Linked DNA regions of Homo sapiens: region 2 is linked to region 1. Evidence: fine-mapped expression QTL. A gene starts in region 1. The other region holds a variant in brackets. All regions are shown on one strand. Distances are from middle to middle.

The links. PIP is the estimated chance that this variant, and not a neighbour inherited with it, causes the effect.
Region 2: its variant is the best candidate, but not a certain one, in a credible set for the expression of RWDD3 in lung (GTEx, PIP 0.70).

Annotation. Positions count from the first base shown.
Region 1 is chr1:95,231,987-95,236,383 of GRCh38, reverse strand. RWDD3 (RWD domain containing 3) reads right to left here and starts at 2,174. Exons shown (of 4, transcript NM_015485.5): 1 at 2,069-2,174. The coding sequence starts at 2,153. All of the region lies in intron 7 of TLCD4-RWDD3 (TLCD4-RWDD3 readthrough), which reads right to left. RWDD3-DT (RWDD3 divergent transcript) reads left to right here and starts at 2,402. Exons shown (of 4, transcript NR_125949.1): 1 at 2,402-2,684. RefSeq lists silencers at 1,714-1,893, 2,104-2,433.
Region 2 is chr1:95,259,618-95,264,014 of GRCh38, reverse strand. No RefSeq gene overlaps it. Among named protein-coding and RNA genes, the nearest start is that of RWDD3, 28 kb to the right of the region's middle. The variant T/C (reference allele first, on the strand shown) is at 2,637.

The DNA.
Region 1 (4,397 bases):
GGTTTTCTCACAACATCCAGCCCATTTTTAGACTACTTTTTTTTTTTTTTTCTGAGACAGAGTTTCACTCTTGTTACCCAGGCTGCAGTGCAATGAATGGTGAGATCTTGGCTCACTGCAACCTCCGCCTCCCGGGTTCAAGTGATTCTCCTGCCTCAGCCTCCCGAGTAGCAAGGATCACAGGCGTGTGCCACCATGCCCAGCTAATTTTTGTATTTTTAGTAGAGATGGGGTTTCGCCATGTTGGCCAGGCTGGTCTTGAACTCCTGACCTCAGGTGATCTGCCCGCCTCGGCCTCCCAAAGTGCTGGGATTACAGGCATGAGCCACGCGCCAGGCCTAGACTACCTTCTTAAAGGTTAACCAATTTATGGTCAGAAAGCCAATTTTAATGGTAGCTACAATATAACATTAGAACGATAAATCTCATGCCCCAAACATGTACATAATGTATCTGAAAGCTAAGTGAAAACTGAGTCACTTTCTCATACATGGCAGTGTTTTTTCTTTTTTTTTTATTCAATAGAAGCCACATACAGGGACAGTAAGTTTCACCTATCATCAAAAAATAGTCAAAAGAACCTCTCTACACTGTAAGCTCCTAGAGGCCATGGGTAGCGGTGTCTCTGAAACCCTGACAAAGTCTGTAGGCAGCAGGGATTCAATAAATGTGGGCTAAATGACTAATAAAGCCCTCAAGAGCTTGTTTAAAAAAAAGTATCAGAAGGCCAGGCACCTGTGGCTCACGCCTGTAATCCCAGCACCTTGGGAGGCCGAGACGCGCGGATCACGAGGTCAGGAGATTGAGACCAGCCTGGCCAACATGGTGAAACCCCGTCTCTACTAAAAATACAAAAAATTAGCCAGTCATGGTGGCAGGCGCCTGTAGTGCCAGCTACTCGGGAGGCTGAGGCAGGAGAATGGTGTGAACCCAGGAGGTGGAGCTTGCAGTGAGCCGAGATCGCGCCACTGCACTCCAGCCTGGGGGACAGAACAAGACTCTGTCTCAAAAAAAAAAAAAAAAAAAAAAAAAGGCCGGGCGCAGTGGCTCACGCCTGTAATCCCAGCACTTTCGGAGGCCGAGGCGGGCGGACCACGAGGTCCGGAGATCGAGACCATCCTGGCTAACACGGTGAAACCCTGTCTCTACTAAAAAAAAAAATACAAAAAATTAGCCGGGCGTGGTGGTGGGCGCCTGTAGTCCCAGCTACTCGGGAGGCTGAGGCAGGAGAATGGCGTGAACCCGGGAGGCGGAGGTTGCAGTGACCCGAGATCGCGCCACTGCACTCCAGCCTAGGCGACAAAGCAAGACTCCGTCTTAAAAAATAAAAAATAAATAAAATAAAATAAATAAAATTCAGCCAGGCATGGTGGCACGCGCCTGTGATCCCAGCTACTCGGGAGGCGGAGGCTGCAGTGAGTCCAGATGGATCCACTGCACTCCAGCCAGGGCAACAAGAGAGACTCCACCTAAAAAAAAAAAAGTATCAGAAAAGCAATCAACTTGGAAATAGAATGCAGATAAAGTTGAGGTTGAGCACTGGATAAATGAAAAAGTTCAGTCAACAAACATTTACCTACTACCTACCAGGTGCCTGGAGTCATTACCAAACAGACCCTGCCCTCCTGCAACTTAAGACCTACAAATACCCGTGTAGAGTTAGAACCGGGGAGTGCTCTCGGGGGGGCCTAGGGCATAGTGCTTAGGAAGGACACAGAACAACGAGGGGGCGTCAGCACAGGCTTCTTTATAGGGTGAGATCTGAGGGGTGGGAGGCTGGGGGAGGGCCTGGGGGTGCGCACGCAGGGGCCCCCGGCTCCGGGAGCGGGACCGGCGGCAGAGGCCCCAGTGGGCCGCGCCGCTCTCTTAGTGTTTCTGGGGTCGCCTCACACTCCCGCCCGCTGCGACACCACTCCGGCCTCCGGGCGTGTCATTCCATCATTCAACTAACCCGGTCCCCATACGTGGGCCCAGGCGGGGTGCCCAGGCTCCGTGGTGGGGAGGAGACGCAAAGCGAACGCGGGTGGCCCCTGAGGGCGCCCTGTCCCTCCCGCGCGCGGGTAGTCACCTGAGCGGCTCAGCACCTCCCACTCGTGGGGCCTGCAGAAAATCGCGGCCAGGACCGAGAGCTCCTCCTGCACAGGCTCCGCCATGGCTGTGGGCCCCACCGCCTCAGCGCTTCCCCTTCCGCTGCCGCAGCCGCCGCCTCCACCGGCCAGGAGCAGCACTGCCCGCGGCCACCCGGGGGCGCCCCGCGCCTCCGCAACCGGGCGGGACGGGGGCGGGGCGAGACGGAGCTGGGGCGAAGCGAAACGGGACGTGGGCGAGGCGAGTCCGGGCGAGGGTCAGGGCAGACGGGGCGGGCGGGGCCCTTAGAAGTTCCGCCCAGAAGCTCCTGCTCAGTAACTACAGACGCGAAGCTCAGCCTCTCGGTTTGGGAATTTTCTTGGAGGCCGAGGCCCTGCGCCTCTGTCTGCACCCAAGGCGACCGCCCAGCTTACCCCCGGCTCTTCTGAGCACAGGGAGGCCTCCCAGCAAAGCCTGAACCCTCTAAGTTTAGCTGCAGGCTTCGAACCCCGACCGTCCCCGCCGAGCCTTGGGCTGCTGAGGTGGGGATGAACTGGGCGAAAGACACTTGGGAGTTAGGAAGAAACAAACAAGCAGGGAAGTGACCAGGAGACAAGGTGAGACTTTGCCCGGCTCAGGTCTGAACTGAGTGTTGGAGATAACCACAGTTAACAAAATAAACAAAATTATTCGCCCCCGTGGAGCTGTTAGCAACCCTGGTGCCTGGGAAGCCTGGAAGAGGCTCGGGTTAGTAACAACCTCCAGGATGCCCTCCGAACTGGTACTGGCGCCGGGACTCTAGACAAGGTCCAGATTCCCGGGCCCTTCCCCTTACGGGTGCAAAAAGGGAGGGTCAGGACCTGCCAGTCCTGGCTTCAGGATGTTGACTGGACGGACCTGGACTCATGGGAACTGTGCGCCAAAGTCCTGGGAGCAAAGTGTCATAACGCTCCTCGTTTGTCTCTTGCCTTCACAGGAGACAGCCCTGCTGCAAGCGGCCAGTGGGAATCCTTGGCCTTTGGGGGTATGATCCAAGAATGTAAACGCTAGCTTTTCAGTGTTTTCGATTTCGTGATATTCAATGCATACAATACAATGTGACTCTTGAAGCTTAATAATAAAATTATCATTCTTGAGCCCAGCACCTAAATTTTAAAATGTGAGCAATACCAATAGGGTAACAGAATAAGCAATCCATTCTGTTTTGACTATAGTGAACAAGATTACAAGACTTATCTGCAGTTAGGTCTGTCTCTCGGATGTTTGCCTGGTCTTTTTGCTGTTCAAATAACAGTTTAAAATTTGGCAGTCCCCACAAGCAGCTGGTCTTGCTCATGGAGTTCTCACAACTTTTGTTTGTATGAGAAATCACATTTCATGAGATAAATCTGGGAATTTAGGTTGTTAGGCAGTGACTCCAGTCACTGACCTACGGAAGTCAGAACAAAGTTGGCTGATTTTAAAACCCTGCATCCATTCACCATTACCATTCCCGCTGTTGGTAAAAAAGGAATCTGATAAAGGAAAAGATACTGGCTTCCCGGAACAGAAAGGAAACCTAACAAGATGGACTGCAGGGAAAATGCTTTTCAGAAGATGCCATGGGATTTCAGTGACCCCGAGTAATTAGGAGCACATAATTGGGAAGATGAAGGCTTATTTAAATGCAGTTATCTCTGATATGGCCAATTGGCTTGAAGAAAAAAAAAACTCCTTTATTTCCAAAATAACAGACGTTCCAGCAGTTCAGTAGGTTCATAATTAACTGCTAAAGAGATTGAACAAAAGAATACGTTTTTAATTTAAAATATTACTAAGTTATTTTAATTCGAAATCCAGTGTTACTATGAAAAGTCAAACAATTTGGTTTTTGACTTATTTATTGAAAATAATCTATAAAATAGGCTGGGCGCAGTGGCTCATGCCTGTAAGCCCAGCACTTTGGGAGGCCGAGGCGGGTGGATCACCTGAGGTCAGGAGTTCGGGACCAGCCTGACCAACATGGTGAAATGCTGTCTCTACTAAAAATACAAAATTTAGCTGGGCGTGGTGGCAAGCACCTATCATCCCAGCTACTCAGGAGGCTGAGGCAGGAGAATCGCTTGAACCCGGGAGGCGGAGGTTGCAGTGAGCCGAGATCGCACCTTTGCACCACTCCAGCCTAGGCAACCAAGCGAGACTCCGTCTCAAGAGCAAAAAAAAATCTATAAAATATTCAAATAGTTTTTACTTATTTTTAATTTTCCAAATTCACTATAAGTGAGATGAGTGAAATAACATGAAGAGCAAAATTACAGCTGTAGGAAGGATTAGGAGGCAGTTGCTAAAGC
Region 2 (4,397 bases), 28 kb before region 1:
ACAAAGAAGGGTTGTTAAAGCTGGACACAGGTAAAGAAAAATTAAATTCTTGGATATTATGTTTCAAAAGCTTACTTTAAGAAAATCTAGGTTTCTAAGAACTCTAGACAAAAAGTTTAAGCCATAAATAATAGATTTGGAATGACTCAGAGTCAGTCACATTTTATACTCTGTTACTTGTAATAGGTTCCAAATTTCATATATGTACATCAGGACTAGATTTGATGACATGTGATAGAAAACTTAAAATGTGGCTTAAAGCCGCAAAGTTATATTCTTTCACATAAAAAAACATTCAGAGGGTAATTCCTATTGTCCGCTCCACTTTCACCCTCAAGCTCACCTCATCATCCCAGATGCCTTTGGAATGTCTGGGACTGTGTCCACATGCCGGGGGCGGGGGAAGGGGCAGAGCAAAAGAGACAGCGCCCAGTGAGCCAGCACCTTCAAGAAGCCTTCCTGGAAGTCATGTTCAAGACCCAGAATTTGGTCTTATGGCCCTGCCTAGTTTAAAGGAAATCTAAAAAATATGGATTTTATTCTAAATGGCACTGTGCCTAGGTAGAAATTGGGGCTCATTACTATAAAGGAAGGTTAAAATGGAAACTATGTAAACACCTATTGATCTCTACCACCACTAGCTTTTCTCCCACCAGAGAACATAATTTTCTCTGGGTTGTGGGTTAAGAGCCTTTAGAGGAATTGTTTTGAGAGGGTGAGACAGTAGAGCCTGAAGATAAGGGGAACCAATCTGAAAGGACCAGGCGGACAAAGGCGAGGTGGTATTCATAGACCACCTAGAGTGAGTCTCAGGGAATGATCTATGAAGAAAGTCAGTGCCCTGCCACTACCCAGGTTCCATTCAAGTGAGCACCTTATCTTACTGTGCAGAAGGCCTTTGTCAATCATTCTGACCGCTACTTTCCGGAAAGGGACCCCCAAAAGCACAGTGGCCTGTTACTGCACCAGAAGTATTATAATATGTTCTGCTATGCTCTGAGACTTGGCATGGCCTGCATAGGCAATTCCCCTTACAGTGGCTCTGGACATTCAGAAGACCACTGAAACAGAAATTATGACACCAACCATCAAGATGCATCCTGATTTAAAAAAAAAAAAAAGCACTAGCACACTTCACACCAGCACTGGACTAGCTCAAGATTGCTCAGAACCAAAACTGGTGAACAATATCCTCTTTATAAGATGTAATCCTGCCAGCATTGGTTCCTAAAATATTTTATTCTGAGGTAATTACTTGTTTCAGACCATTTAAGAAAACCTACAGATAACTAAACATAAACCTTGGTGTAATATCCCACCCACTAGAGTGATTAAAATGAAAAAGAATAGCAATACCAATTTTTGGTGAAGGAATGCAGCGCCTGGAACATAGGTAGGTTGATGCAAAAGTAATCGTGGTTTTTGGCTGGGCGCAGTGGCTTATGTCTGTAATCTCAGCACTTTGGGAGGCCGTGGCAGGCAGATCACCTGAGGTCAGGAGCTCGAGACCAGCCTGGCCAACATGGCGAAACCCTGTCTCTACTAAAAATGCAAAAATTAGCCACGCCTGATGGTGGGCGCCTGTAATCCCAGCCACTTGGGAAGCTGAGACAGGAGAATCGTTTGAACCCGAGAGGCAGAGGTTGCAGTAAGCTGAGACCGCGCCATTGCACTCCAGCCTGGGTGACAAGAGCAAAATTCAGTCTCAAAAAAAAAAAAAAAGGAATTGCAGTTTTTGCATTGGAAGTAATGACTAAAACCACAATTACTTTTGCACCAACCTAGTACATTGCAAATGGAAGCGTAAAATGGTGCAACCACTTTGGAAACAATTTGGCTATTTCTTATATAAAGTTAAACAGACATAGAAATTCCACTCCTAGATATTTACCAAAAGATGTGAAAATCTGTATCTATAAAAAGGCTTACACCTAAATATTTATGCAGTTTTATTCATAATATCCATCAAAGGTGAATGGCTAAATAAATTTATATGGTGGACTACTGGCCACCAATAGAAGGGAACAAACCACAATACACAACATAATGTAGATGAAATCACAGACAGTGAAAGAAGCTGGACACAGAAGAGTACACATTATTCAATAACACCTTTATTCTAGAACAGGCAAAGCTAATCTACAGTGATAGAAATCAAAACAGTGATTACCTAAGAAGAGGAGGGGAGGAGACTGCAATGGGGCTGAGGGAACTTTCTGGAGAGGTGGAAAGGTTCTGGGGAGGCGGAAAGGTGGAAAGGTTGTACGTGTAGATTGGTTTTCTCTCCGGCCAAACTCAGCAGCTGGAGTCACCCCAAGAATGGTGGCAGGGGAACTCCTTCAAGGGACCGTCCCAAACCTTCCTGAGATTGGGCCTGCTTGGGTTTCAGAGAAGGAAGCACTAAACTCCAGAGTGACCAATCTGAAGCATTTATTAGGGGAACTTACAAGTTACACAGGAGGAGGCTGCAGCAGGTCCGCCTGAGCGACAGTGAGGGGGAGATGTTCTTCCTGAGTATGTCCGCAATGAGGGGTCAGGTTATGGAGTTTATGTGAGAGCTTAAAGAATTTTTCCGAAGGTGGACGCCTTCTACGTGTATAGTAACATAATCAATCTCTGTGTTTCCAGCAACAACC[T/C]AAACAGCTTTATCAGTAGTGGGGAATGTTCAACGCCCTAGCTTGGATTCAAGGATGCAGGAAAAACATGTAGCTGGCCAGGTCACAGAGTAGTCAAGGCATTCTGTTTTCCTTGGTCAGGACACAGGAAGAAAGCAGAGACGATATTGGGGGACCCAACAATTGGAGTAGTGGTTGATGATTACGGATGTGTACTTGAGTCAAAAGTCATCAAATTGTAACCTAAAAATGAATTTTATTTTTACAGTCATATTACTAAAAAAAAAGAACTTCCGTTCATCAAAAGACACAACAAAAAGCAAACCACAGAGTGAGAGAAGCTACTTGCAATACATATATCCAACAAAGGGCTCATATCCAGAATTCATAATGAATTCTACACCCAATAAGAAAACAACAGACTGCCCAGTAGAATAATGAATGAAGGATTTGAAGATACAATTCACAAAAGAGGATGTCCAAATGGCTAACATATATTAGAATGTGCTCAATATTATTAATATCCAGCACCACTAGACACACACTGTAATGACTAAAATTAAAAAGACTGTCAGTACCAAGTATTGCCAGGAGTGTAAATTGCCCCAACCACTTAGGAACACAGTTTAGCATCATCCAGTAAAGTTGAAAATATGCAAACACTAAAACCTTGTAATCACACTGCTAGTTATATACTCAACAATAATGCATATTTACATGTACCAGGAGATATCTACAACAACATTTATTGCACTACCATTTGTGATAGCAAAAAATTTAAATATTTAGACAAATAACAATCTATAGTAGACTCGATAAATAAATTGGGCTATATGAATATTTCATACAACAATGAAAATGAATGCCTCATAGCTATAAACAATAAAATAGATGAATCTCACAAATACAAGACTGAGCAGAAGAGATCAGACTTTATCATAAAGAATTTAAAAACAAATTTAAAAAACTAAATTATACTGTTAGCTTACTTAGGTAGTAAAATTAAAAAAAGAACCAGGAAATGATTGCCATAAACATCCAAATAGTGGTCAATTCAGGGGGTTGAGACTGGGAAGTGTAAAGATGCTAGCAAAGTTCTATTTCTTGAACAGGTGGTATTTATACAGATTTTACTTCATAATAATTTCTTTAGCTGTACAATTATATCTTATTCATTTGTGTATGAGTGTTATATTTCACAACACAATTTTTTAAAGAGGCATGGGAGGCGATGACATAATAACATAATAGATATCAGTTCAATGAACAAAACAAAGTGGGAATCAAAGAGAGGATGCTATTTATAAGAGGAAATATTTGAGCATTTTTATTATTGAAGATTAAAAATGCAAGAGAGAATTAATGTTATGAAATCTCAGAGAAGACAGAGGATGGAATCAAGTATGTATAGGCAAGTGGTCTTGCCTTAAAAAAGACAACCATTCTGTCTCCAGATTAGGAAGGAGAAGGAAATAATAATACAAAGAATATTTGAAACAGAGAAAGTATATGGAAGGTCATATTGGGTGATCTCTGGCAGTTAGAATGTTATTGATGGAGATTTTGAAGACTTATATTTGTCATCATAGGTTTTGTTTTGTTTTGTTTGAAGTTTCAATGTACATTCATACATAGACAAACCAATGTCTTTCCAGAATCCAGAAGAGGAATTTAACTTTCTCTAGTAACACAATTTGTATTCATTTCACATAACTCAATATTTGCTGTGCCTCCAATAAGTAAGGTCCTACCCTCGAAAACTTCCAATCTAGTAATGGGAAG